7 linked regions of the Homo sapiens genome follow. The protein of the gene in region 4 purifies or fractionates together with the protein of the main gene of each other region. This does not show direct contact. Each region holds a gene or a part of one and is shown on either strand. Other genes may lie near its edges. The genes, in order: UBR5, USP22, TRIM56, RAB40C, DTX3L, PDPR and RNF7.

Region 1 (4,176 bases), on a different chromosome or scaffold from region 4:
GAAAAATAAAGGCATGTCACAGAATAATGTAAAATTTAAAAACAGAAAAATATCAGCCTAATACTAGTGTAATCTTGAATCAAATTATAGCCTGACCACTTACTGGAATATGATGCAGCAATTTAAAAATAAATCGTATTGTAAATAACGTAAAAAAAAAAACCAAACAACCAAACTGTGAAAATTGGGTGTTCTCTGTAGCTAACATTTATACAAGAAGCTGCACACAGAAAAGAGACTAGAAAGTAATAATGGTTCCATGAGGGAGATGGGATTATGAATTTATTCATATAAATATTTGAGTCTGCTTTGCTGTTTTGGAAAGTGCCCCAGACTGAGTTTATGTTTTCTTCTTCTGATTTCATATATTTGGTATTGTTCTTCTAAATATTAGTTGATATACCAAGGACTGTGGGACAAAAAATAAGAAATCGTACATTTAGGACTCACTGTATGTCAAGCACATTGGCAGGTATATTTCATAAACTGACCTTGTAAATGTTTTGGTTAAATTTGTTTTGAGATTTTATTATAAAATGTTAATACTTAAAAAATGTTAGAACTTATAACTTTATGAATGTCTAAACATCTTATGAAGTATCTTAACATTAATAGAGTGAATATAATTTTTTAAAGCTTTTAGATACTCTACTAGGTACACTAGTGAAAGAACTCCAAAACAAATATACACCTGGACGTAGAGAAGAAGCTATTGCTGTGACAATGAGGTTTCTACGTTCAGTGGCAAGAGTTTTTGTTATTCTGAGTGTGGAAATGGCTTCATCCAAAAAGAAAAAGTAAGGCATCCTTTTTGATTTTGGTTTAGATACCATTTTCACTCTGTTTTTGTGATAGTGATTTATGTATATGAAAAGATAGATTGCTGATATTTCTCTTTTTGTTCTAGCAACTTTATTCCACAGCCAATTGGAAAATGCAAGCGTGTATTCCAAGCATTGCTACCTTACGCTGTGGAAGAATTGTGCAACGTAGCAGAGTCACTGATTGTTCCTGTCAGAATGGGGATTGCTCGTCCAACTGCACCATTTACCCTGGCTAGTACTAGCATAGATGCCATGCAGGGCAGTGAAGAATTATTTTCAGTGGAACCACTACCACCACGACCATCATCTGATCAGTCTAGCAGGTAAATTGCTACCAGGTAACAGATTCTGATTAATCCTTCTCTGGAAATGTCGTGTTTGACTTCCTAAAACCTTTGCATAAGCACTCAGGTGGTGTACATGATCATTTGTGTAACATAAATAACAACCAGAAAGCCGGAATTTTAAATATTTTTCTACAACAACTGTATTATCAAGGACAGGGCTAAAATAACTCCATTATAAATGTTTCTAATTATAAGATTATTTGTTCTTAAGTTTCATTTATCTTTTCTATTTGTTTGATAGTTTCCCTAATTACACTGTAAGCTTGTTGAATCAGGATGTTGAGCAACTTAAAACTTTCCGATGTCCTTTAGCACACTGCTTCTCAAACTTTAATATGTATGAAAATGACTTGGGGCTCTTATTAAAATATAGATGCCCACTCTAGAGGTCTTGAGGTGGGGCCTCCAACTTCGTATGCCTTTCAAGTTCTCAGGTGATGCCAATTCTGCTGGTTTAGGGGTCAGACTTTTCAGTAATAATGCTGTAGATCTTTGGCAAATATTTAGTGTATTTTGTTTTTTCAAGTCTGATTTTATAACCATGTGCATGTGTGATGATGTTTTAATAAGGACCTTTAGGATCTAAAGACCCTTTTCCTCCTTTTCTGGAAAACATCTCTGTTAATAAGGATGGCCTGCTTTAGTGTTTGGGATAGTTCCCAAGTTGTTACGCTTGGATTTGATCTGGGTTGGTGTTGAGTATCTGCTCTCACTATTCTCCTATATGCCAGTATATGTGTCCCAATTTTTCCTTTAATGTCAGGTGTCCCTTTAATCTAAATCCAGTTTTGTCTGACAGAGCTCTCCCATAGTATCCTTGATACTGATATACATCCAGGACTTGTTGAAAACTGTTACAAATCAAGCTGTGTATCTTCAGACTTGTCAAATCTATCCCATGATTAAATAATTCTGCTTGTGAGATCTGCTTGGACTCTGTATGATTTTCCTGATCTTGATACCCTGTGAGGAACTCATTAGTTACTTAAGTGGTATTACTTTGTGAATTCTTAGTATACTTCCCTTGATCTTGTTCTGGAACATAAAAAATTGATGGCTGTTGAACAGATTTTGGGATCGTCTCATCTCTAAACACTGCCCTTGAAACTGTTCCTACTAAGTTTCAAGATTTTGTGTCATCTTGTTCTTAGTCTCATTATTAAAGTATTACATACTCTTAAACTCTCTTTATTCCATTCCCTTTGCTTGTTTCTTGAGACAACTTCCTAAATCTTCCCAGAAGGAGATCTCATGTGATAATCAAGAAATAGTGCTAATGTTTTCTTCAACTGTTAAAAGTTCTTTATTATAGTACAGTACATTCTTACCCATAAAGGGTGTATTTTGACTAGTGTTCCAAGGATGTCTTAAGTTGAAAAACACAGACCTTGACCATTCTCTGGGATTTCACTTGTCTTGGATTATAGAAGGTGTATATCACCCCATTGAGTGTGAAGTCTTAAGAGTAGCTTTTTCTGTTGCTTCTTTCCACCTCTTGAAAATGTTCTTGTTATGTTCTTAATAAATAATCTGTTTCTACTTTATTTCCATGTCTCTCATATAACAGTAACTAACAGTTACTGAAATTTTAGTATGTACTAGGAACTTTCCTAAGTATTGTAGACAGATTACCTGTTTTAATTTTCCCAATATGTCATAGATAACCACTATCATTCTAGTTTGTCAAATGGGGAAACTACGGCTCAGAAAAGTTAGGCAACTTCTCCAGTGTAACACAGCTAATTAAAGTTTAGACGCTGGACTTACCTTGACAGATACTTCCTTTTTTTTTTGTATTCTCCTGAATAGTAGATGGCAGAGTAGAGAGGAAGACTACTTGGTGCTTGCTCATAGTGTTGAGCCACCACACAGTTAACCAACACTGAACCAGGCTTTATAGTGTAGAGTGCAGTCCAAAACTCTCCAAAATGCAGACTTGTAGTTAGAAGTTCTCAAAAGAGACCTTTTTCCATTCTGCATCTATTCATGGCTGAGATAGGTAAATCTCTCGAGGTATGATTTTTCTGTTTCACTCCTTCATGGTGTTGCCCTTTTAAGATTTATGTTTAGCTTTATATATGTGAGGGGGACAGAAGAGGAGATTCCTGTGATGACTTTCTATTCTTTGCTTAGCCTCCAGACTCTCATGTGAAATCTGTGGTTCCTTGAAGCCCTTCTAGCCCAAGAGACATCAGTGGGTCCCTTTGGGATAAATGGTGGCACTTGTCTCTCCAAGCTTTATACAGTACAGTCGTTTCTCTTTATCACCTGCACAGCTGTCCTTTTTTTTTTTTTTTTTTTTAATATCTAGCATATATATGTGTTCCTTAACAAGAGTGGTTTCTCTGCACAGTCTGCCAAATTGCTGGAACTAGAAGTCCCCAAAACTTAGTAGTGTATTAACGGGGCTTTTTAGACTAGGCTTCAGGACTGTTGTGCTTCATTGTGCCAGCAAGTCTGTTGGGAAAAAAGTTGAAGTCACACTAACTGGGGAGTTACACAGGTTGAGTATTCCTAATCTGAAAATGAGAAATCTGAAATGCTGCAAAACCGGAAACTTTCTGAGCACCAACATGATGCTCAGAGGAAATGCTCATTGGAGCATTTTGGATTTTGGGATTGAGGATGCTCAACTGATAAATATATATAATGCAGATACTCCAAAATTTAAAAAAAAAAAAAAAAACCCAAGATCAAAACACTTCTGGTCCCAAGCATTTCAGGTAAGGGATGTTCAACTGTAATACGTTTTATGTATTGGTATTTTTAAATTACTCTTTTTAAATTTTTTGTAGCGTTTGGGTCTCGCTGTGTTGCCCAGGTCGGTCTTAAATTCCTGTCCTCAAGCAATCCTCCCACCTCAGCCTCCCAAAACATTGGGATTACAGGCATTAGCCACTATACCTAGTCTGTTTTGGCAGTATTATACATACTAACTGCATAACTTCTTAAAGTAACCACTTTGAGGGGCCTATAGTTCTTGTGGATGTTTGTTCTAGGATGTT
Region 2 (4,176 bases), on a different chromosome or scaffold from region 4:
AAATCCAAACATTTGTGTCAAATGAGCCACAGCCAATGGTAGGCATCTGATAAAGGTTTTGATTGTGTGTACTCTGTGTTCAGAGTCTACATTTATTCCTGACAAGGTTTCCTTCCCCGCCCTCTGGCAGTTTTACTCTGGACACCGGTCCCCTCACATCCCGTATAAGTTGCTGCACCTGGTGTGGACCCACGCGAGGCACCTAGCAGGCTACGAGCAGCAGGACGCCCACGAGTTCCTCATCGCGGCCCTGGACGTGCTCCACCGACACTGCAAAGGTGGGCCCTGGGCTCTGCACCCTCCACCAGGGCAGGATGTTTTCCTTGAAGGGGAAGGAAGCAAAGCGAGTGTATGCACTCGTGCAAAAAGGGGCACAGGTGACACATTCCATTGTTTTGTCATCATAGCCCTTGTCGTCATTTGTTTCTGAAGTCACCATAACTAATGACCTCAGAGAGGCTCCTCCTAGTTTATTTTTAAGAGGCGAGGAAGTAGTTCCAGCAGTATGACAGGTCCTCAGTGACCGATCACAGTGAACAGCAAACTCTTGGAGCCCTCTTGGGCCTGTGCTTTGAGGCCCCTGCCTGCCCTGGCATTTCTGGGACCCTGTGGGTTATCAGGCCTGAGGCTTCTGGACATCCCCCAAACACAACTTAATCACCCAACTGTCTCCTTCCCATTGGGGACTCTCCAAAAGGACTGATGGTTGCTCTGAAATAGCCAGAGAGCTGGGACACAGGACGAGCAAAGCTTCTCTTGGGGTCTCATTGGACCTGGGCCATCTCCCCCAACATAGTCCCACAGCCTGGCCCCAGGGTGGTACCCTGATGATTTTTCAGAGTTGTGTGGTGTTGGTAGTTGGCAGGGGCAGCTCTTAGCGCTGGAGGTGGGAGGCTGGGAATGAATGACTTGAGCCAAGATCGGCTCCTCCCCACTCCTCATGGTGGAGATCCCAGTGTGAGGGACCTGCAGCTGAAGTCTATCCATACAGGCAGAGAGACTGAGAGGTGATTCTCAGATGAGTGTGGGCTGGTCACTTGCAGGTCTTCCTAAAGCCCGTGCTGGCGTTTCTGATTCAGCAGATCTGTGGGGGGCAGGGGCTTCTTCACTCTTAATCAGTTCCCAGCTGATGTTGATGCCGCTGGTTCAGATGCCATACTCTGAGAACCCATGCGCTCAGGTCACAGGGCACCTGGCTGCTTGTGAGTTTCCTGTGGTCTCTGGGCTGGCACAGCTAGTTGTAGCCGATATCCTATCAGTTAATTTTAACTTGGAGTCTTTTAGAGAACAGAGTCCTGTTCTGACGGTTCACCGAGTTGAACAGCTTGGTGGGCTGGCCTTCCCATCGCTTCTCATCCGTCTCAAGGCTGTGCACCCGGGCCCTAGGCGCTTACGTACAACCTATGGGTTCTGAGATCACAGCCCAGAAACAACCCACAGTTGAGCTAAAATGGCTGGTTTTGGTCAAATGTGACTTTGGGTTCTGTTTTCTTTTGGTACTTACTTTTTTTCCTCTGAAAAACTACGTGATCCTTTTAATTCTTACCTAGAAATCAAAGGAAAGTTACTTAGTAGCTTAGGTAGAATTTCATGTCCTAGTATGATTTATAAGAGAGGAAAGAGCCACTGTGGAAGTGACTATGCTGTTACCCCAAGCACCTAGTGAGAATAACGAAGAGCCTTCTGTAAGCAGCAGAAAGATGTTCTAAAAATCACTTGTTCAAAAATGCATTGCTGTTAAATGTTCACATGACAAAATGTGACCTCTGACGTGCTTCTGACAGAATTCCCTTGGAAATGTCTGAAAAGAAATGTAAGGTTCTTCTGTTTAGAAACCTGGTTGCCAGAGCTGTTCAGCGAGGTGGCCTGGCCACATGGCCTTGGTTACGTGCATTTTGTCCTTGTGGCCTTCACGGCATCTTTCTGTTCATCTTTTGTTTTGTTTTGTTTTGTTTTTGAGTCAGAGTCTCGCTCTGTCGCCAGGCTGGAGTGCAGTGGTGCGATCTCAGCTCACTGCAACCTCCGCCTCCCAGGTTCAAGTGATTCTTCTGCCTCAGCCTCCTGAGTAGCTGGGACTACAGGCGCCCGCCACCATGCCCAGCTAATTTTTTGTATTTTTAGTAGAGACGGGGTTTCACCGTGTTAGCCAGGATGGTCTCGGTCTCCTAACCTCGTGATCCGCCCGCCTTGGCCTCCCAAAGTGCTGGGATTACAGGCGTGAGCCACCGCGCCTGGCCATTCTGTTCATCATTCTTTGCGCCTTCCTGTATGGATATTCTTGTCCTCTGAATTTTGTCCCATGAATTTGAGATCCCTCTGGGAAGCATTTTTCTCTCTAATCTTAAACCTTCTGCTCTCAGAAGACTTAGTGGCCCTTCTCTATTCCTCTGTCATGATTCAACGTCTTTGAACTGTGATGTATATACAGGTGTCCTCGTGCCCTGTCCCCACTGTCTAGTGAAGTTATGTAGAATATGTATTCCACACACGAATTAAGTTCTGCTACTTAAGTTTCTTTTTCACAGATCTGCACACATGGATATGAATGAAGTGTGTATTGAATAGAGAGGGTGGGAGTGGCACTTCCAGATGCAACTGACTGGAAGACACGCTGTCCCCTGGGGGCTCTAGCTGATGAGGACAGCCTGTGTCCTGCGGTGTCACTTTCTGAACTTGGGGCACCATGATACCTACTCAGGGAGGGAGGTTGCTGGGGCTTCCCCGGGTGTACCTGGCCCACCATATGTTCAGCTGTCTCACTGGAACAATATTGATTCAGTCATTCTTTATATGATAATGGGAATCGATTATTCTGCTCAGTCACTGGGCATTAGGTGGGTTTTCTTGGCAAGACTGAAGCTGTGGGGCTCTTGTTAGGGAATGAGAAAAAGGAGCATTGAAAATCCAAGTGCTGTGATTTCTCGTCATATTAAAATAACAAGGACACCCTCTGCTAAAATGAGGAGTGTCCTCACATGGCCTTTTAAAGCGTTGGCCCTGGCTCCCCCAGGCTTCTGCAGGGTGAACTGCTCTTCCCTTAGAGACTCCCCATATTTGGGGAGACACTAATCCCAGAGCCGTGGTCTGTCTCCAGGTGATGACAATGGGAAGAAGGCCAACAACCCCAACCACTGCAACTGCATCATAGACCAGATCTTCACAGGCGGGTTGCAGTCAGACGTCACCTGCCAAGTCTGCCAGTAAGTGAGAGGCTGCGTGCTCGGCAATATCAAACCCTCTGGGGCCGTACTGACATCCTCCCAGTCTCCAGAGCTGTGTGTGCTCTGAGAGGTCTTTAAGGAGGCTATGAGATAAATGATTAATAGACGCCATGAGAGCGAAGGTTGTGGGGTGGGGGTGCTTCCTCTTGGGGAGGTCGTAGGGCAGGTGTCCCCTCGGGATGCGAGCCCTTCGTGTTGAGGTCTTGGCTGTTGTCTACAGCCAGCAGTGTGTTCTTGGAAGCTTCCCCTACCATTTTGCATCTTACAGTCCTTGACCAGGGACCAAGTGAAAGAGCCCTCTTCAAGAAGGCGTGGATCATGCATGGTGGATTGTTTTTCTACGTGCTTCGAAGTGTGTTAGTTTTCATTATTTTATGGTTTCTGGTTCCATTTTCTGATGTAGTGGCCCTAATTCTTCTCAGATGTGGTCTCTGCTTAGAGCCTCAAGTGTTGAGTGCAGGGAGAATCCATTGCTTTGTTAGGTCAGGGGACCCTCTCACCCAACCTCAGTGCATGCTACAGGTTTTTTGTTTTTGTTTTTGTTTTTTTCAGGCATGGGGTCTTGTGTATGTTGCCCAGGCTGGCCTTGAACCCATGGGCTCAAGCGATCCTCCCTCCTTAGCCTCCCAAGTAGCTGGGACTACAGGCATGGGCCACCGTGCCTGGCTCTGTTCTTTACTTCAGTTGAAGTTTAAAAACCCTGGACATGATCCACCGAAATTATTTCAGAACCCGAAATGGACTGTCACTTCTAAACTGCATAAGACGAGCAAATATCGGGAAAGGCCAGTGCTGCCTGTGTCACGGGGGCCATTTTCTATAAGGAGCATAGACCGTTTGGGGCCTTGTCTCTGAGTATTAGAAACCGAGTTTGCTCTGAGCAATTTGGACCTCCTCGCTGTCCCTTAACTACTGAATTCCATTAGTAGGAGATTGTCTCAAGATTTAAATCCTG
Region 3 (3,663 bases), on a different chromosome or scaffold from region 4:
CCTGGGCGACAAAGTGAGACCCTGTCTCAAAAAACAAAATAAAAAATAAAAAAAGGGGGCTAGGTACGGTGGCTCACGCCTGTAATCCCAGCACTTTGGGAGGACAAGGCAGGCAGATCACAAGGTCAGGAGCTGGAGACCAGCTTGGCTAATATGGTGAAATCTTGTCTCTACTAAAAATACAAAAATTAGCAGGGGATGGTGGTGGGTGCCTGTAATCTCAGCTACTCGGGAGGCTGAGGCAGGAGAATCACTTGAACCCGGGAGGTGGAGGTTGCAGTGAACCGAGATTACGCCACTGCACTCCAGCCTGGATGACAGAGAGAGACTCCGTCTCAAAAAAATAAATAGAAAAAATAGAAAAGGGAAGGTACCCACAGGTGCTTGTTTGGCTTCCACAAACCCCAAAACAAAGCCCCACGTGGTGGGCACAGCCACCATGACCTGGGTCCCTCATGTACTTCCTGCATATCACACCTGCGTGTGCCCAGGTGGAGCCCTGCATGCGCCAGCATGGGCCAGATCACCTACTGGTTCCCACCCAGAAGGTGCATGCTTCTGCAATGTCCCCAAGGAATCTGTGTGGCCACCCTGGGAGCTACCTACCATTGGGTGGCTTTGATGACCTGATTTCCTTCACTATCTGGGCCTGGTTGTTAAAGGTTCCCTGTATCCAGCCGGGTGCAGTGGCTCACGCCTGTAATCCCAGCACTTTGGGAGGCTGAGGCGGGTGGATCACTTGAGGTCAGGAGTTCTAGACCAGCCTGGTCAACATGGTGAAACCCCGTCTCTACCAAAAGTACAAAAATTAGCCAGGCGTGTTGGCTTGTGCCTATAATCCCAGCTACTCAAGAGGCTGAGGCAGGAGAATTGCTTGAACCTGGGAGGTGGAGGTTGTAGTGAGCCAAGATCGTGCCACTGCACTCCAGCCTGGACGACAAGAGCGAAACTCCGTCTCAAAAAAAAAAAAAAAGGTTCCCCGTATCCATAAACCCTTCTGAGAAAAGGTTCCAATTTTTCAAAAGAACTTTATTAAGAAACAGAGGAAAGATACAAAATTCCCATCTGAGAAAGGTTCCCATTTTTCAAAAGAACTTTATTAAGAAACACAGAAAAGATACAAAATCCATAACCAAAGGAACTGAAGAGTTTACAGCACACTGGGTTTAGCCCATGGCAATGTAGAGAAATGGGCTGGGCTGGCGCTCAGTCACTAGGCACCGACGTCCTGATTCCTCGTCTTTGACCCAGTGTCCCTTGGTTGCTAAGTCAACCAGTTCTAACTTTCTCTGGAGACAAGTCAGGCTGCCCTCCCAAACCTCCTTCCTAATGTCTTTATACACAGGCCCTCTTCCATCTGGTCCCTAAGATTTCTCACCCAGCACCTCAGGTGAGATCTAGTCTGATGTTGCTGTACTTTGTATACTGCTCCAATCACAGGAGTCTGCAGTTTCTAGAAAATCTATTTTTGCTCCTGTCCTGATCCATTTCATAAACTGCATTCACAATCCAGTTGGGTAGTCTAATTTTGCTACCTTTGGTCAAGTTACCTACTTTCCCAAGTCTGCATCTGAACTTGGTCTTTCTCCTGCTAACAACGTATTCCTAGGTACTCTCTCTGGCAGTTCTCTGCCCCAGTTCATCCAAGACCTTCTCCCCAATACAGAAGTCCGCACCCCTTTCCAATCTCCCACTTAATTTATGGGATAGCCCTAGTTCTCTGCTTACCTTTCAAGGAGAGACAATCAGAGACCTTGATCTTGGCACTCGCCTGTTCAACCCTGCCCAGCTCAGGTCAGCAACCTCATCGGTTTCCTTGCAAAACTTTTGACTTCTGCCTTGGACTTTCGCCCCTTAGAATTTTATTTCTGCAGATTTAGAATATGGCATTGCTTTATAGATACCGTAATAATAAGGCTAAAATAGAAGGAGAGCTACTCCCTTTCCAAATGATATTTTCTCTAAACTCTCAAAAGATTGGGCCACTCTTGCCATTTTTCACTTTTTCTAAATGTCTACTCTTATGGGTCCTTAACTAATACGGTCTGATTCTTAGCTGGCTTTTAAGAATGGCATTACATTTCAGCAAGCTGGCCATTGGTCCCTTCTATTCCTGAAGTCACTGTTGTGACTTCAGATAAGGCTTCTTCAAGTAACTGCTGGAAAGCAAAACAAAATGGTCTCCTCTGAAGGAGAAGCTGATTTGCAGAAAGCTCTACTCGGGTGTTCCAGAGCTTTCACTCACAACACATGTACCTAACATCCTCATACACGCTTATGCTGATGGAGGGGTATCAGGTGGGTACAAGTCAGTTGAAACTTTTCCTAACCAACACCTTGTATTTGAGCTTTATGGTGTCCGAAATACTTCTCTACATTTCTCATCCAGTCCTCACAGCAGCTCTGTGAAGTGGGCATGTGGATGTCATTATCCCAATGTTACTGATGTACAAACTGAGGCTCAGAGAGGTTAAGGCACTAGACCAAGATCACACAGCTGTTTAGTGCAGAGCCAACACTCAACCCAGGTCTCTGCTCCCTCATTCTCTTCCCATTTCTTGACACCAAGAATACGAAAGAGGTTTTCTACTTCCCTCTTCCCTACCCAAACAGGATTTTCTTTTCACTGGTCCATCCACGCACAACCTAGTCAGTTCCGAACAGGAAAAGGAACAATTTATCAAGTTAATTGTCACAATCCCAGGTGTGGTGCAGTGGGCTGGGGTAAAACATTTTGCTGTATCTTTCATGATGTTCCTGATTTCTCTCTTTTTTTTTTTTCTTTTTGAGACAGGGTCTCACTCTGTTGCCCAGGCTGGAGTGCAGTGGTACGATCTCAGCTCGCTGCAACCCCTGCCTCCCGGGCTCAAGCGATTCTCCCACCTCAGCCTCCTGAGTAGCTGGGATTACAGGCATGTGCCACCACGCCTGGCTAATTTTTGTATTTTTAGTAGAGATGGGGGTTTCACCATGTTGGCTAGGCTGGTCTCGAACTCCTGACCTCAGGTCATCCACCCGCCTCAGCCTCCCTAAGTGCTGTGATTACAAGCGTGTTCCTGGTCTCTTTGTATCTGCGATATAACTGGGAACTCTGCCTTAGTCCTGAGCAGGGCTTTCTATCAGGTCCCCAGGCCACTCAGTTACGGTGTTGGAGATTTTACCTCCAAATTATGCTCAATGCAACACTTCCCATCCATGCTTCTCATTTTCCAGTGTCCTTTGCTGCTCTCGCCCCCCTCACCTCTTTACGAAGAAAACTTAATATTTCCCTCCATCTTACAATGCCCTGTGGATTCTTACAGCTTCCCGAGAAGCCACTTGGCATCCCCATCTCTAGGGCGCCTGTGGGACTATCTTCTTGCAGCCAGGTGACGTTTCATTTCTGAAGGTTTCTATTGTTTTGCCCCCTGGGTGGGCCACGTGGCTAGAATCATTTCACCAGCCAGGACCACTGCCCATGGCTCCCATGCAACTCCGGAGAGCTGCTGTTTCCACCCCAAGGTGTGCGATCCCCTACAGTACACGGTTCCCAGTTACCCCCTCCACATGCACAGAAGCGGGACACCCCGATCTCATCTCTCCCTCTTTTATCCCCCCCTTAGGAAACCAGGTTTTGCTCTGTCACTCAGGCTGGAGTGCAGTGGCACAATCAGAGCTCACTGC
Region 4 (4,176 bases):
GGACAGGTGCCAATGAGGCTGTGCTAAGCGGCTTTGTCTGCACAGGTCACAGCAGCCTGGCGCCGTGCCGCTGAGCCAGGCAGGCAGCAGAAGGGGCCCCCGCCCACCTGGGGAGTGAGCAAGCTCCTCACATGAGCCTGGGAGCTCCAGGAGACTGTCCTGCCAGGCTGGGGAACCCCAACCCTGTGGACATTCACGTCTCATCAACGCTGACGTTCTGGGAAATGCTTTTTTTTTTTTCTTTTTTGAGACGGAGTCTCATTCTGTCACCCAGGCTGGAGTGCAGTGGTGCAATCTCAGCTCACTGCAACTTCTGCCTCCCGGGTTCAAGTGATTCTACTGCCTCAGCCTCCTGAGTGGCTGGGACTACAGGCGCCCGCCACCACACCTGGCTAATTTTTGTATTTTTAGTAGAGATGGCGTTTCACCATGTTGGCCAGGCTTGTCTTGGACTCCTGACCTCAGGTGATCCTCCTGCCTCGGCCTCCCAAAGTGCTGGGATGACAGGCGTGAGCCACCACACCCCGCTGGGAAATGCTTTTTAAGGTGAAGCCGACAGAAGGGGAGGGAAGGGGCTCACAGCCACCACGGAATCAGGTTTTCCGGGGCAGGAGGGGAGCCGCGATCTCTAGGGACACAGTGTCCCAGACTGTCTTTTTCCTGTTGGAGTAAAATCCATTCTATGTTTAAACAGGGGCTGTGTAAGTGGCTCTTCCAAGTGAAATGCAAACAGGACGCCTTCCTGTTTCTCTAAGGGTTCTGTTCTCCCTTCGGCATTTGTGTCCTCACCCAGGAACTGAAGTGCCGCAGCCCCAACTCACCAGAGCTCCAGCTTCACGCGCCGGCCGTCCAGCAGGATGGTGGTGGTCTTGTAGTCGATCCCTGCGAGGAAGCACAGGGCGCTGAGGGGACGCGCCACTCCTGGAGCGAGCGCCCGCGAGACCAGCCTCGGCCACTGGCCTCCCAGGGCCAAGACCCACGCGGAAGTGGAGAAGCAGCTCCCCCACACTCAGCCAGTGGGGCAGGGGGAAATCTCGGGGCTCTGGCCCAGCAACCCAGGCCTGCCCACTTCTGCACACGGGCCACGGGCAGGGCGGGGCAGGGCAGGGCAGGAGCGTGGTCCATACAGTGTCAGGCCATCGGGCCCCACAGCCTAGCAGGCCAGCCTCTCCATGGGCACGGCTTGCCTGGAATGGGGCCTCCGCCTGTGGCCCGCGCTGGGTGCAAGGCACAGGGCCTCTCCCTCAGAGGGCATTGGGCAAAGGCAGGGCGTGGACTCCAGCGTGCCTGGAGAAAGGGCAGTGCCTTTATTTCCACCCTGACCTACTTCGTATGCATTTTGAAGTTGAATTCTCCAAGGCGAATGTATTTCCAAGTCTCGGCTTACTGCAGCCCAGGAACTGCCAAGGTTGGTGTTAGGGAGGGCCAAACAAGTTTAAAAATGCTGCTTCTGGCCGGGCGCGGTGGCTCACGCCTGTAATCCCAGCACTTTGGGAGGCCGAGGCGGGCGGATCATGAGGTCGGGAGTTTGAGAGCAGCCTGACCAACACAGTGAAACCCCGTCTCTACTAAAAATACAAAAAATTAGCCAGGTGTGGTGGTGGGCACCTTTAATCCCAGCTACTCGGGAGGCTGAGGCAGGAGAATCACTTGAAGCTGGGAGGTGGAGGTTGCAGTGAGCCGAGATCATGTCACTGCACTCCTGCCTGGGTGACAGTACTCAATAAATAAATAAATAAATAAATAAATAAATAAAATGCTGCTTCTCCGGACTCTGGACTGACCTCAGACAGCCACCAGCCTGCCTGCCACATTGGTATTTTTTTTTTTTTTTGAGACAGAGTCTTGCTCAGTCACCCAGGCTGGAGTGCAGTGGTGCGATCTCTGCTCACTGCAAGCTCCGTCTCCCGGGTTCACGCCATTATCTAGCCTCAGCCTGCTGAGTAGCTGAACTACAGGCGCCCGCCACCATGCCCGGATAATTTTTTGTATTTTTAGTAGAGGTGGGGTTTCACCGTGTTAGCCAGGATGGTCTCGATCTCCTGACCTCATGATCCACCCGCCTCAGCCTCCCAAAGTGCTAGGATTACAGGCGTGAGCCACTGCACCCGGCCTTTTTTTCTTTTTTGAGATGGAGTCTCACTCTGTCGCCCAGGCTGCAGTGCAGTGCCACAATCTCGGGTCACTACAACCTCCACCTCCCGGGTTCAAGCGATTCTCCTGCCTCAGCCTCCCAAGTAGCTGGGATTACAGGTGCCCACCACCACAGCCGGCTAATTTTTATAATTTTAGTAGAGACGGGGTTTTGCCACGTTGGCTAAGCTGGTCACAAATTCCTGACCTCAGGTGATTCGCCCGCCTTGGCCTCCCAAAGTGCTGGGATTACAGGTGTGAGCCACCGTGCCCGGCCCACATCACATCATTACTTTTTATTTCCTTACAGTTTTATAGGAAAAGGTCAGTCCAAGAGAAACTGAAAGGAGCAGACAGTTCTGGACACTTAACGCAGGCACGACATCTTAAACAGGCTCTGGGCCCTCTGGAAACTTTCCAGAAGCTTCTACCTTTAGGGCTCAGCCCCTTCCCCCACCTTAGAAACACCATTCACGTTTTGTCTTTTTATGACACTTTCTCCAAGGGGCTTGGAAACGGGCACTTTTTAAACATAAGCGACGCCCTCCCACGGAGTGCACCTGCCCAGTGGGCTTGTGTGTGTGTCTGTGCACATCTGTCTCTCCGTGCGGGCCCAGCCCTGCAAGCCAGCCATGCGGTCTCTCTGCCTACGGTGCCCTTCTTCAGGCATCAGCGCTTCCACCCACACCGTCCTTCTGCCTGACCAACCCCTACATGTACATCAAAGGCTGTTCTCATGCATCGAAGGACACCATCAATGGACAGAAAAATGCAACCCAGAGATGGAGGGAAATGTCTGCAGATCACACGTCTCCTAGAGACTGATCTCTAGACTCTACAAATAACTCCAACTCAACAACAGAAAACCAAACGTCCCAATTTTAGGATGGACGGATGGTCTCCCTCGGGTCCTCGTTTCCAAGACAAGAAGGAACAATGGTTGTGCCAAAAGGGCCACGGCTGTGAGCAGCCCATGACTGCAGGAGCTGCACCCAATGTGTACCCAGGGACAACGCCATTAAGCAGTTCATCAGGATGCGGTAGAGTTAGGCAGTTCACTATCGGGACGAGGTAAAGTTTGGCAGTTCACCATCGGGATGCGGCTGAGTTAGCAGTTCACCACTGGGACGAGGTAGAGTTTGGCAGTTCACCGTCGGGACGAGGTAGAGTTTGGCAGTTCACCGTCGGGATGCGGCAGAGTTAGCAGTTCACCATCAGGATGTGGTAGAGTTAGGCAGTTCACCATTGGGACGAGGTAGAGTTAGGCAGTTCACCATCGGGACGAGGTAAAGTTTGGCAGTTCACCATCGGGATACGGCAGAGTTAGCAGTTCACCATCGGGATGTGGTAGAGTTAGGCAGTTCACCATCGGGATGCGGTAGAGTTAGGCAGTTCACCATCGGGACGAGGTTTAGGCAGTTCACCATCGGGACGAGGTAAAGTTTGGCAGTTCACCATCGGGATGCGGCAGAGTTAGCAGTTCACCATCGGGATGTGGTAGAGTTAGGCAGTTCACCATCGGGATGCGGTAGAGTTAGGCAGTTCACCATCGGGACGAGGTTTAGGCAGTTCACCATCGGGACGAGGTAAAGTTTGGCAGTTCACCATCGGGATGCGGCAGAGTTAGCAGTTCACCATCGGGATGTGGCAGAGTTAGCAGTTCACCATCGGGATGTGGTAGAGTTAGGCAGTTCACCATCGGGACGAGGTAGAGTTAGGCAGTTCACCATCGGGATGCGGCAGAGTTAGCAGTTCACCATAGGGATGCGGTAGAGTTCGGCAGTTCACCATCGGGATGCGGTAGTTAGCAGTTCACCATCGGGATGCGGTAGAGTTTGGCAGTTCACCATCGGGATGCGGTAGAGTTCGGCAGTTCACCATCGGGATACGGCAGAGTTAGCAGTTCACCATCGGGACGCGGTAGAGTTAGGCAGTTCACCATCTGGATGCAGTAGAGGCCGCAGCCTTGCAGACATTTTGGAAGCATCTGCGCCGACTGTGTGCTTCCCGAGCTGCGTGTGAAGCTGCGTCACTGCCCCAGTG
Region 5 (4,176 bases), on a different chromosome or scaffold from region 4:
GAAACAGACAATATTAGTAAACAATAGATATATAATAAAATGTCTGCCAGTCATACCTGCTAGGAAGAAGAATAAGTGACAGACAGTGACAGAACCACCATTTAAAATAGGATGTCTGGAAAAACCTCAAGTGAGGTGACATCTCTAGCCAAGTGGATTTCTGGGCGGAAAGTGTCCTAGAGGGAAGCATAGGTGCAAAGTCCCCAAGAGCTGACATTTTGAGGCCCAGAAGCTTTAAGGAAGCCAGTGTGGTGGGGAGGGCAGTGAGCAATGGAGAGAGGTGCTAGGAACTCGGGAAGGTACCCAGAAGACAGGCCTTTGGGGCTGAAGGTAAGGATTTTGGATTTTTAACTTAAAATGTTAGGGGATTCATCAGATAGTTTTGAGCCAGGGGAGAGGGCGATCTGGTTTATATTTCTAAAGGGTCACTCTGGCTGCTGTTGGAAAACTGAACGTAGAAAGGGGATAGAATGGAGAGTTAGAGCCTGGTTAGGAGGGGTTGCAGTGCGCCAGGTGAAAGATGATAATGGCATGCACTTTGGTGGCCTTGATGGAGGTGTGAGAAATGGCTGGATTCAGGAAACATTTTGAAGATCTAGAGGAAGGATCTTAACATGCAAAGTCCTTGAGAAGGAACAAAACATTAGGAATTTTGCTTTTATATTACAGTCAATTGGTCTCTGTCCTTTTTATCTTAACCTGGCGTGTCTTATATTTGAGCTTCTAAAGGCCAGGGTTTAGAAGGGTCCACAACTTTGCATGCAGTCGAGTGTTTAGTTGAAACAAGAATAAAGGAGGAAGAGTGAAGAAGAGAAAAAATAGTAATAGGAAAAGCCATTGCCCTCAGTTTTATGGCTCCCTTCCAAGTTCACAAACTTTTGTGAGGGCCACAACAACTTGCCCAGAGAGCACAGGTGCCTTCCCTTGACTGCTGTTCCCAAGATCAAACAGCTAGTGGCAGTTGTAGAACACGGATCTCTTGGCCATGGAGCTTTTAGAAATGCTCATGCCCAGGCTCCACTGCAGATTAGTTAACATCAGAATCTCTGGGGATGTGCTTGGGCTTTGGCTGGTTTGTTTTTCCCTGAATTCGCCAGGTGAGTCTTATATGCAGACAGGGCTGAGAACCTCTGGGATGTAGCGTGCTGTATCCTCTAAAAAGGATTTGAGACCAGGCACGGTGGCACATGTCTGTAATCCCAGCACTTTGGGAGGCTGAGGTGGGTGGATCACCTGAGGTCAGGAGTTCCAGGCTAGCCTGACCAACATGGAGAAACCTCGTCTCTACTAAAGATACAAAATTAGCCGGGCGTGGTGGCACATGCCTATAATCCCAGCTACTCAGGAGGCTGAGGCAGGAGAATTGCTTGAACCCGGGAGGCGGAGGTTGCAGTGAGCTGAGATCGCGCCATTGCACTCCAGCCTGGGTAACAAGAGTGAAACTCCATCTTGAAATAAATAAATAAATAAATAAATAAATAAATAAATAAATAGGATTTGAAAGAAGTTGCCCCCACTTGGGAAAGATGTAGTGGTTGTTTCTCTAGTCTCTATGCATTCTCCTGAAGAGAAGATGGTAGGCCTGCATGCTGAGAGGTTTTATTTGTTCCTGTTCCTTTTAAAATTTCAGATCTTTCTTACTGTAACAGCTGACCTGAACTGTAACCTGTTCTCCAAAGAGCAGAGGGCATACATAACCACACTGTGCCCTAGTATCAGAAAAATGGAAGGTCACGATGGAATTGAGAAGGTGTGTGGTGACTTCCAAGACATTGAAAGAATACATCAATTTTTGAGTGAGCAGTTCCTGGAAAGTGAGCAGAAACAACAATTTTCCCCTTCAATGACAGAGAGGAAGCCACTCAGTCAGCAGGAGAGGGACAGCTGCATTTCTCCTTCTGAACCAGAAACCAAGGCAGAACAAAAAAGCAACTATTTTGAAGTTCCCTTGCCTTACTTTGAATACTTTAAATATATCTGTCCTGATAAAATCAACTCAATAGAGAAAAGATTTGGTGTAAACATTGAAATCCAGGAGAGTTCTCCAAATATGGTCTGTTTAGATTTCACCTCAAGTCGATCAGGTGACCTGGAAGCAGCTCGTGAGTCTTTTGCTAGTGAATTTCAGAAGAACACAGAACCTCTGAAGCAAGAATGTGTCTCTTTAGCAGACAGTAAGCAGGCAAATAAATTCAAACAGGAATTGAATCACCAGTTTACAAAGCTCCTTATAAAGGAGAAAGGAGGCGAATTAACTCTCCTTGGGACCCAAGATGACATTTCAGCTGCCAAACAAAAAATCTCTGAAGCTTTTGTCAAGATACCTGTGAAACTATTTGCTGCCAATTACATGATGAATGTAATTGAGGTTGATAGTGCCCACTATAAACTTTTAGAAACTGAATTACTACAGGAGATATCAGAGATCGAAAAAAGGTATGACATTTGCAGCAAGGTTTCTGAGAAAGGTCAGAAAACCTGCATTCTGTTTGAATCCAAGGACAGGCAGGTAGATCTATCTGTGCATGCTTATGCAAGTTTCATCGATGCCTTTCAACATGCCTCATGTCAGTTGATGAGAGAAGTTCTTTTACTGAAGTCTTTGGGCAAGGAGAGAAAGCACTTACATCAGACCAAGTTTGCTGATGACTTTAGAAAAAGACATCCAAATGTACACTTTGTGCTAAATCAAGAGTCAATGACTTTGACTGGTTTGCCAAATCACCTTGCAAAGGCGAAGCAGTATGTTCTAAAAGGAGGAGGAATGTCTTCATTGGCTGGAAAGAAATTGAAAGAGGGTCATGAAACACCGATGGACATTGATAGCGATGATTCCAAAGCAGCTTCTCCGCCACTCAAGGGCTCTGTGAGTTCTGAGGCCTCAGAACTGGACAAGAAGGAAAAGGGCATCTGTGTCATCTGTATGGACACCATTAGTAACAAAAAAGTGCTACCAAAGTGCAAGCATGAATTCTGCGCCCCTTGTATCAACAAAGCCATGTCATATAAGCCAATCTGTCCCACATGCCAGACTTCCTATGGTATTCAGAAAGGAAATCAGCCAGAGGGAAGCATGGTTTTCACTGTTTCAAGAGACTCACTTCCAGGTTATGAGTCCTTTGGCACCATTGTGATTACTTATTCTATGAAAGCAGGCATACAAACAGTAAGTATTTCTCAAGTCCATGGGTTTCTTGCCACTATGCTACGATTACCAGGGCAAAAGAGACTGTCCTGTTGCCTATTAGACAATAGATTTCCCAAGGAATTATCTCCAGGGTCATGTGCAAGGGACTGAAATAGTGGTAAAGGTCACAATGTTTGCTGGTAATTCAAATACCTTTTGTGTCTATTTCTTAAGACAGAGAAAGGGTGGGTGGAGATTATATCTTGAGATGGGGGTATCAGGAAGGTGGACAGTGTTTCCAGCATGAATTCAAGGAAAGAGGAGAAATATGAGTTATTGGGAATATGAGCATAACTTCAATACCTTTCTTGCTTTTGATTTGCTTTATCTACAAATGAACACATCTATACCTATAGTAAAAATTAGACAGGGCACTCTTTTCACATGACATTTTCTTGTTCTCACACAGGAAGAACACCCAAACCCAGGAAAGAGATACCCTGGAATACAGCGAACTGCATACTTGCCTGATAATAAGGAAGGAAGGAAGGTTTTGAAACTGCTTTATAGGGCCTTTGACCAAAAGCTGATTTTTACAGTGGGGTACTCTCGCGTATTAGGAGTCTCAGATGTCATCACTTGGAATGATATTCACCACAAAACATCCCGGTTTGGAGGACCAGAAATGTGAGATCCTTTTGGGATGTAATGGCTGCTCAACAGAGTATAGGGATTATGAAATACGGCAATTTCTGGATGTGGATATAAGTAGACTCTATAGCAGTGGAATTGGTGTTTTGAGAGCTGCTGATCGGGGATGGTAATCTCAAAGACAGAAAGATTGGTCCCCATCAACTTCTACCCTGCCAGCTATAAAGTACTATGGAGTTATTTAAATTTTGCACCAAAGGACAGGGGGCTTTTGAATCCGAGATGAATACTATATAAGCTGATTTAATTTGAGGCGTTGTGTCTATCTGAAGGCTAGATGCTCGGAATGTCACTTTGCTTCCTTTTAAGGTCACCTTTCTTTTTCACCCCTTCCCCCA
Region 6 (4,176 bases), about 70 Mb from region 4:
CCAACCCCAAATCAGTACCCGGTGGAGATCTGCCCAACCAAAAAGTATACAGACTTTAAATTCAGAGAAGCTAAATCCACTTCAAACATATCCTAATGCTTACTAGATAAGGAAAGCATTATTCTGGACACCAGTGTTTGTGACATCAGCTTGTGCTAATTACATGTCATCCATCCTAAGACAGGCTAGAACATGACTTTTGTTCAGTAACATTCTGTAGTATCCCAATCCAGGAGCAGGACGTATATCATATTTGCTACTACAAGGAATTGAGAATGAGAGCCTGGGAGAGCAAACGCTGGTGGGGCCAAGGGGCAAGATCAGTTAGGTGGGAAGGTGGGAGGGGTTAAGCCGAGACTGCTGAGAGTGAGAAAATCAGGGAACCAAGTCATCCTTAAAAATTAGGTACTCTCTGGGACTGGGCGTGGTGGCTCATGCCTGTAATCCCAGCACTTTGGGAGGCCGAAGCAGGTGGATCACGAGGTCAAGAGTTCAAGACCAGCCTGGCCAACATGGTGAAACCCCATCTCTACTAAAAATACAGAAATTAGCCCGGCGTGGTGGCGGGCGCCTATAATCCCAGCTACTTGGGAGGCTGAGGCAGAAGAATCGCTTGAACCCGGGAGGTGGAGGTGCAATGGCATGATCTTGGCTCACTGCAACCTCTGCCTCCCAGATTCAAGCGATTCTCCTGCTTCAGCCTCATGAGTAGCTGGGACTACAGGCATGCACCACCATGTCCAGCTAATTTTTGTATTTTTAGTAGAGATGGGGTTTCACCATGTTGGCCAGGCTGGTCTCAAATTCCTGACCTCATGATCCGCCCGCCTCAGCCTCCCAAAGTGCTGGGATTACAGGTGTAAGCCACTGTGTCCAGCCCTCAATTTTCTTTTTTTTTTTGAGATGGAGTCTCACTCGCCTAGGCTGGAGTGCAGTGGTGCAATCTGGGGCTCACTGCAACCTCTGCCTCCTGGGTTCAAGTGATTCTCCTGCCTCAGCCTCCCAAGTAGCTGGGATTACAGGTGTGTGCCACCACGCCCAGCTAATTTTTGTATTTCTAGTAGAGACGGGGTTTCACCATATAGTCCAGGTTGGTCTCGAACTCCTGACCTAGTGATCCTCCAACCTCGGCCTCCAAAAGTGCTGGGATTACAGGTGTCAGCCACCGCATCCCCTAGAGATCAATTTTCTATGACCAGAGAGCCTCTTTTATGCTAACTCTAATGTTCATTTTTGAGAGTCAAATGTAAAGAAGGCAAACGTGGACACATCTGCATCTGCTGGCCTTTTCGACGTGGCAGAGCCCGAACCCCCGTACCTGTGTACTTCCAGGTGACGTCCTCCAGGAGCAGGTTGCTGTCTTTCGGCATGTGTTTCTTAAGCCAGGCCCAACAGTGGACCTGCTGGTCGGTTGGAGAGATCATGAAGAAACTGAAAAGTGAGACCCCAAAATAATCAAAACCAGGTAGCAGCAAAAGGATCAGGAAGCAATCAAATCTTATTTGGTTTCAAAGCAATGAGGCAAATACTAGGAAATGATTTCTTAGCTTTCACAGAAGGCCAGTAGCACCATTCTAGGATACACCACCTAACAACAAAACAAAATTCTGGCTTCCTGTTAATGCCAAGAAATTATACAGATTTACTAACGTTAAGACATCGGCTGGGCACAGTGGCTCACACCTGTAATCCCAGCACTTTGGAGGCCAAGGTGGGCAGATTGCTTGAGCTCAGGTGTTCAAGATCAGCCTGGGCAATGTGGCAAAACCCTATCTCTACAAAATATACAAAAACTGGCTGGGTGTGGTGGCGTGTACCTGTGGTCCCAGCTACCTGGAAAGCTGAGGTGGGAGGATCACTTGAGCCCAGGAGGTCCAGGCTGCAGGGATCCATGATCGCATCACTGCACTCCAGCCTGGGTAACAAAGTGAGACCCTGTCTCAAAAAAAAAAAAAAGAAAAAAGACAAGGCATCTTCTCCCAGTAGGGTACATAATCTGGTGGGCTTTTTTTTCTTTTCCTCCTGGTGATTTCTTTTGTTTAGGACTGCTAATAAACTGGCTTTGATTTCATGTAATGATTCTTAGACTCTGGGATTTATGGTTCCCGGAGAAGCGCCTGAGAGCCTCTGCTACAGCACCCCTAAGGAATCAACATGTTGGAGGGAGCAGAGCGGGACGGCAGCTCATCTCACCTGCGCTTGTTCAGTCGTGCTATGCTGCAGTCATTTTCATACCCTCCACCCTCGTTGAGCATGCCAGTATGCACAATGTGGCCCACAGGCACATCCAGGTCATTGGAGAAGAGGTACTGTAGAACTTCTAATGCCTGATCCCCAGTGGACTGCAGGGTTAGGGAATGAAACAGAGAGAGTGAGCGTGAGAGCACCTGGCTGGGCCACATGGCCCCACCAGCAATGAACCTCATTGAGAAAATTCAATCAGCCAATTCCCATGTGACAACATTTGCAGACCTACTCCACTGCAAGAAGCTCCAGGGAACGCTAGCTATTGATTCTTATGATAAACAGGCCTCTCTAGCAAATTAAAAACCTGAAACAAGGAGCTAAAATTTCAGAAAAATGTTACAATACAGATGAAACACTAAAATATACCAGAATTCTTAAGAAATCAGTGTTTTGTTTTTGTTTTTTGTTTTTTTTTTTGAGATGGAGTCTCACTCTGTTGCCCAGGCTGAGTGCAGTGGCGCAATCTCAGCTCACTGCAACCTCCACCTCATGAGTTCACGCGATTCTCCTGCCTCCCGAGTAGCTGGGATTACAAGTGCCCGCCACCATGCCTGGTTAATTTTTTGTATTTTTGGTAGAGACGGTTTCGCCATGTTGGCCAGGCTGGTCTTGAACTCCTGATCTCAGGTGATCCACCCGTCTCGGCCTCCCAAACTGCTGGGATTACAGGCATGAGCCACCACTCCTGGCCTTAATTTTTGTATTTTTAGTAGAAACGGGGTTTCACCATCTTGGCCAGGCTGGTCTGGAACTCTGACCTCAGGTGATCCACGCCCCCTTGGCCTCCCAAAGTGCTGGGAATACAGGCATGACCCACTGCACCCAGTCAGGAATCAGTTTTGAAGATGAAAAACAAAAGGCATTCAATAAATATGTAAAGTTTCCTAATCTATTACTTTTTGGTTCCCAAATACTTACTGTTATCTCAAACTTTGTGAAAGAGGACATGTCAATGACACACACAGCTTCCTTACAGCACTTGACTTCAGACTCCACGATGTCAAACCAATCTGGCTTATAGAAAGTCTTGCTCTGCTCCAATGCCAGGAGGTCTACGGAATGGAAAAATCACAAGGCCCTGTAGAGTTTAGTGTAGTCCACGTGGTTCTTTTTCTTCTGTGAACACATTCTAGCCTATGCATTTGAAAATATGTTTTATTAATTCCCAGGACAAAAAAAAAAAAAAGAAGCAAAAATGAGAATGTGACTTCTTACCCTTGTCGGGGGGAACAAAGTACTTTGGCCTCTCAAATCCATGTTTCTCCATCCACCTGGCTCCCTGTGCATCCAGCCGGTCGTAGAGAGGAGAGGTGCGTAACTGCCTACCGGTCTGGAAGTCCCAGCGGGGAACCTTCAGATCATACATCAAAGCTAGAAAAGACACGAGTAGTCTATCAAAGCCCAAGACACAGATTCTAGACCTGAGTAGCCCATGTCCACTAGACTCTGGAGTTGTTTCTATTCAAAAGAGCTTTCCAGGCTAACGTAGTTTTTTTTTTTTTTTAAGACGGAGTTTTGCTCTTGTTGTCCAGGCTGGAGTGCAGTGGCACAATCTCGGCTTACTGCAACCTCTGCCTCCTGGGTTTAAGCGATTCTCCTGCCTCAGCCTCCCGAGTAGCTGGGATTACAGGCACGTGTCACCGTGCCACACTAATTTTTGTATTTTTAGTAGAGACAGGGTTTCTCCATGTTGGTCAGGCTGGTCTCAAACTCCTGACCTCAGGTGATCTGCCCGCCCCAGCCTCCCGAAGTGCTGGGATTACAGGCGTGAGCCACTCTGCCCGGCCCAATTTCCAGGCTAATGTAGTCTAATTTTCAAAATTACCCAGTGTATCAGGCATGCTCCAGAAGGAAAAGACAATCCTGCCAAGCTGCTATCGTCCCTCCCTGGAGCTACGTGTCACGGCATGACTCGGCCTGTATTCACAT
Region 7 (4,057 bases), on a different chromosome or scaffold from region 4:
TTGTAAAGAGGCAGTTGGGATCACCAACCTTAATATTAAAATTCTGTGATTGCACAGAACTAGCGCCAGATTCAGGTAGGATGTCTTCACTGTTATATCACAACCCTCATGATATTTAGGTGTTTGTCTACGTCCCCATTTGCTCCTGAGCCCCTTGAGACCCAGCCTTGGTCATTTTGGTGTCCCCAGTGCATAACTCCTTGCACAGAGGAGATAGTAATTGTGGGATTGAAGAAAACCTCAGGAGGCAGTGGTTGTTTTTAATCCACACTGAAGAGACTAGGGCAGTGGTGTTTTTTTAAGGGTAAGAGCATGTGGAAAGGAGCAAACAAATGCCTGAGCAGAATCCAGTGTAAGAAGAGAAGCAGGCTTCAACTTAACCGTGTTTCTATTTTTACAGAATTATTTTTCTCCTATTTATGTTAAAAACTATTTTCTGTTGGTTCAAACTTCCTTTTACCCAACTCTGACTCCTCTTCCAGCTAGTGAATGAGTCCATTTTTGCTCCCTAAAATATTCTATATTACTTTTTTCATTAAGCTGATAGTATTCCAGATTGAATTTTGAAAACTTCTAGTACAGCCTTTAGGATCTCATTTTTAGTATTTACACCTACTCCACTATATTAGAAGTTACTATAAGCTCACTGGGCATGCTCATGGGCAGTTTATTTTCAAGGCACCCTTTTAAATAACCCATACATATAATGTTAGTATTTGTTTATATATACATCAAGAAATTCTAGAAGGATACCCAAGAAACCAGTAATAAAGTAATTTATTAAAAGACTTTACCATTGTTGGGTAAATACTTTGGGCTCAGACTTATCTGTATTTTCTTTCTTTCTTTTTTTTTTTAAAAAAACTTTTAGGTTCAGGGCTACAAGTACAGGGTTGTTACATAGATAAACTTGTGTCACAAGGGTTTGTTGCACAGATTATTTCATCACCCAGGTATTGAGCCTAGTACCCATTAGTTATTTTTCCTGATCCTCTCCACCTTCCACCCTCCAAAAGGCCCCAGTGTGTGTTGTTCCCTGCTATGTGGCCATGTGTTCTCATCATTTAGCTCTCAAGCATTTTCTTTTTTTTTTTTTTTTTTTTTGAGACGGAGTCTCGCTCTTTCGCCCAGGCTGGAGTGCAGTGGCGCTATCTCGGCTCACTGCAAGCTCTGCCTCCTGGGTTCACGCCATTCTCCTGCCTCAGCCTCCCGAGTAGCTGGGACTACAGGCGCCCACCACCACGCCCGGCTAATTTTTTGTATTTTTAGTAGAGACGGGGTTTCACCATGTTAGCCAGGATGGTCTCCATCTCCTGACCTCGTGATCCGCCCGCCTCAGCCTCCCAAAGTGCTGGGATTACAGGCGAGCATTTTCTTACAAAGAAAAAACCTTAGTGTTTAGGGATATCTAGTATTTACTTATTTTATCTGTAAAATTCTCACCAGTTTGTATCATCCCCACTTAATATATAAATACCTCACAGTATTGTCCCTTTTTTACAGATGAGGGAATTGGAGTTCGTAATTGGTCCGAGGCCCTGAACCTAATAAATGCCAGTGAAATGGGATTTGACTGTAGATCTGGCTCCACAGCCCTCGCTGTCCCCTCTGTCTCACTGGCTTCTCACCAGCCTTGTCTGGATGACCATCGGTAGCAACCTATTGGAAGCATACAAAGCAGTTTATTTTAGAGGAACTCTCAAGTGTCTTAGGGTAGAAAGTAAAAAGTTGCTTCTTATGAGTTGCTAAAGGAAGGCTTCTGTGTCAGTAAGTATGGATGACTTTAAAAAACTTGTTTATGAAGCAATTTTTTAATTTAATTTTTTATAAGTTATATATTCATATAGTTCAGAAATTGAGGAAGTTATGTATATTACCTGGAAGAGTGAAAACTCTCCTTCCCATTCCAAACCCTCCCAGTAAACTTTATTATTGGTTCCTTGGGTATCCTAGTGTTTCTTGATGTATGTATAAACAAATGCTAACATATATATATGGTTTATTTAAAGGGTGTCTTGAAAATAAACTGTCCATGAGCATGCCCAGTAAGCGTATGGTAACTTTGAATATAGTGGAGTATGGCATATTTTTCTCTAGTAGTTTTCTCTCTTGGCACCGTCAGGACATCTTTTCATCAGAGCTTATAAAAATAGAGGATTTGTTAACCCTTGTGAAATTGCTCCTGGTTATAATTAGTAGAATGCCTTGTACTTTATTCCTCTTTAAGTAGTTATGTTCAGATGAGAAATTAATAGTATGAGTCTTTATTGCCATCCCTAACCCTTAGGGCTTTTGACTTTGAAGTGTCTGGTTTTTAAAAATTGCATTCTGAGCATCAGAATGAGAATCGCTATTTGTTTACTTTTAGATGCCTGTCTTAGATGTCAAGCTGAAAACAAACAAGAGGACTGTGTTGGTATGTTGTAATTTTGTTCTCTTGCTTTTTCAACTGAAGGTTTTCTCTCAGTAGGGATGTTTGAATTTGAAATTAAGATTGACTTTATCAATACACAAAAATAAACTGTAAAGCAGTGATCCATTGTTAATATAAAATATGTTGGTTCTCAAAAGAGTTTAATGGAATGAACCTGCAAGTCCTTTTATTGCCATAATTAAGAAGAATTGGTTATATATTCCAGACATGGTCATAATAAACATTTTGGTAATCAAAAATTAAATATTTTCTATTAAGAAAATTATAAAATCAGAAATTTGTCAAAACATTATTTGAATTTTGGCTATGTTATAGGTCACTTTTGGTTCTAATAAGGCATTTCACTTTTCAATACTCTTATAATACAGTATTTAACTTTAAAACCAGAGTAGAAAAATTCTAAGTCTCAAGTATATTTTTGGAATGTGGTTTGTGTATCAAATTTTCTTTAGAGTCTTAGACTACAAAAGTTGTCGTAGGCTAAATATTTTAGGCAGTTCAAAGATTTTTATGCCCTAGTTCTTGAGGTGATCAAGTCTAGATTGCTATATAAACATGTTTATAGATTTTCTTAGAATAAAAGATTGGCTTTGTATTTTGTGTTTGCATGGTGTACGTAGAACACAAATACATGGTGTACATAGAACTTCTTAATATTGATTCTTGCAGTTTTGATCCAGTTCTTCCTCCTGAAACGCTTAGAATGTTTCACCCTTGCTTCCTACCCCCTGTAGCCAATTTTCATAGGCATTTTTTTCTTTTTTTCTGCCTTATTTCTTTCATTTAATCTTTTTCTCTGCCTTATTTCTTTCATTTAATCTTTTTCTCTTGTCATATAGCTCAGTTGATCAAGCAAGGGACAGATGAATCCCAAATTCGAGATTGCATTCTAGATTGTGGATGATTTCCCTTGTTTTAAAGTTTTTCTTTCATGCTGCTTGTTTAAAAAGTATTAATTTGGGAATTGTGAGGGGCAGGCCACTTTCTTTGATCACAGAGAGACCTCTCTCTCCAGCCAGCCACTTTGAAAATTTCATCGTCACATGAGGAATTGCACTGCTTATGGGTGACTTAACACAATTCATCACTTCTAGAAAACAGCTCAGCTCAGATGCACAACTGAATGTTTAGAAGCATGTTATTTATAATAGCCTACTGCATACTAAAAACATTTACAACTCATTCTGTCTTGGTAAATAAAAATTGGAAGGACATTTTCCCATAAAATAAAGCCCAGAAGATCTCTAAGGTCAGTGCATGACTGAGAAGGTCAGATCTAAGGAAGGTTCAAGAACATTCATCTAACTTCAAGAAGACAGCATGTGGAGCTGTGTAGGAACTAGGGGTCATCACATCACCCATAGATTCTAGAACAGTGATGGAAAGGCTCTCAAACAGTGACTTATGTCTCTGTGTAACTTACACATTTAAGTTTCTGTTTCTTTATAGATAGAAAAACATTATTTTGGCCAATTAACTATCTTTTTTCAAGATTATTATTTGTAATATAAAATAAGCTATAATTTTGAGTTCAGTGTTTAAATTGAAATATGTAATGTCAACTCTTCTTTTTCTTTCTTTCAGTGGTCTGGGGAGAATGTAATCATTCCTTCCACAACTGCT

What was found.
Region 1: the proteins of RAB40C (region 4) and UBR5 purify together in Homo sapiens (affinity purification with mass spectrometry, with the first as the bait; one large-scale study listed by BioGRID). This does not show direct contact.
Region 2: the proteins of RAB40C (region 4) and USP22 purify together in Homo sapiens (affinity purification with mass spectrometry; one large-scale study listed by BioGRID and IntAct). This does not show direct contact.
Region 3: the proteins of RAB40C (region 4) and TRIM56 purify together in Homo sapiens (affinity purification with mass spectrometry, with the first as the bait; one large-scale study listed by BioGRID). This does not show direct contact.
Region 5: the proteins of RAB40C (region 4) and DTX3L purify together in Homo sapiens (affinity purification with mass spectrometry, with the first as the bait; one large-scale study listed by BioGRID). This does not show direct contact.
Region 6: the proteins of RAB40C (region 4) and PDPR purify together in Homo sapiens (affinity purification with mass spectrometry; one large-scale study listed by BioGRID and IntAct). This does not show direct contact.
Region 7: the proteins of RAB40C (region 4) and RNF7 purify together in Homo sapiens (co-immunoprecipitation; 4 studies listed by BioGRID and IntAct, with this or other methods). This does not show direct contact.

The regions. Positions count from the first base shown.
Region 1 is NC_000008.11:102,290,576-102,294,751, reverse strand, and holds part of UBR5 (E3 ubiquitin-protein ligase UBR5), read left to right. Parts: intron 1-636; coding exon 637-797; intron 798-907; coding exon 908-1,147; intron 1,148-4,176. UniProt on the Homo sapiens protein: E3 ubiquitin-protein ligase involved in different protein quality control pathways in the cytoplasm and nucleus. Mainly acts as a ubiquitin chain elongator that extends pre-ubiquitinated substrates.
Region 2 is NC_000017.11:21,011,854-21,016,029, reverse strand, and holds part of USP22 (ubiquitin carboxyl-terminal hydrolase 22), read left to right. Parts: intron 1-130; coding exon 131-278; intron 279-3,094; coding exon 3,095-3,200; intron 3,201-4,176. UniProt on the Homo sapiens protein: Deubiquitinase that plays a role in several cellular processes including transcriptional regulation, cell cycle progression or innate immunity.
Region 3 is NC_000007.14:101,095,313-101,098,975, reverse strand, and holds the end of TRIM56 (E3 ubiquitin-protein ligase TRIM56), read right to left. Parts: 3' UTR 1,009-3,663; downstream 1-1,008.
Region 4 is NC_000016.10:613,914-618,089, reverse strand, and holds part of RAB40C (ras-related protein Rab-40C), read right to left. Parts: exon of another isoform or gene 1,826-4,176; intron 883-1,825; coding exon 822-882; intron 1-821. UniProt on the Homo sapiens protein: RAB40C small GTPase acts as substrate-recognition component of the ECS(RAB40C) E3 ubiquitin ligase complex which mediates the ubiquitination and subsequent proteasomal degradation of target proteins.
Region 5 is NC_000003.12:122,566,859-122,571,034, forward strand, and holds part of DTX3L (E3 ubiquitin-protein ligase DTX3L), read left to right. Parts: intron 1-1,630; coding exon 1,631-3,166; intron 3,167-3,596; coding exon 3,597-3,814; intron 3,815-4,176.
Region 6 is NC_000016.10:70,141,676-70,145,851, reverse strand, and holds part of PDPR (pyruvate dehydrogenase phosphatase regulatory subunit, mitochondrial isoform 1 precursor), read right to left. Parts: intron 3,619-4,176; coding exon 3,463-3,618; intron 3,382-3,462; coding exon of another isoform or gene 3,377-3,381; exon of another isoform or gene 3,300-3,376; coding exon 3,166-3,299; intron 2,343-3,165; coding exon 2,194-2,342; intron 1,432-2,193; coding exon 1,319-1,431; intron 1-1,318. UniProt on the Homo sapiens protein: Decreases the sensitivity of PDP1 to magnesium ions, and this inhibition is reversed by the polyamine spermine.
Region 7 is NC_000003.12:141,741,141-141,745,197, forward strand, and holds part of RNF7 (RING-box protein 2), read left to right. Parts: intron 1-1,503; exon of another isoform or gene 1,504-1,767; intron 1,768-2,368; coding exon 2,369-2,416; exon of another isoform or gene 2,417-2,417; intron 2,418-4,018; coding exon 4,019-4,057. UniProt on the Homo sapiens protein: Catalytic component of multiple cullin-5-RING E3 ubiquitin-protein ligase complexes (ECS complexes), which mediate the ubiquitination and subsequent proteasomal degradation of target proteins.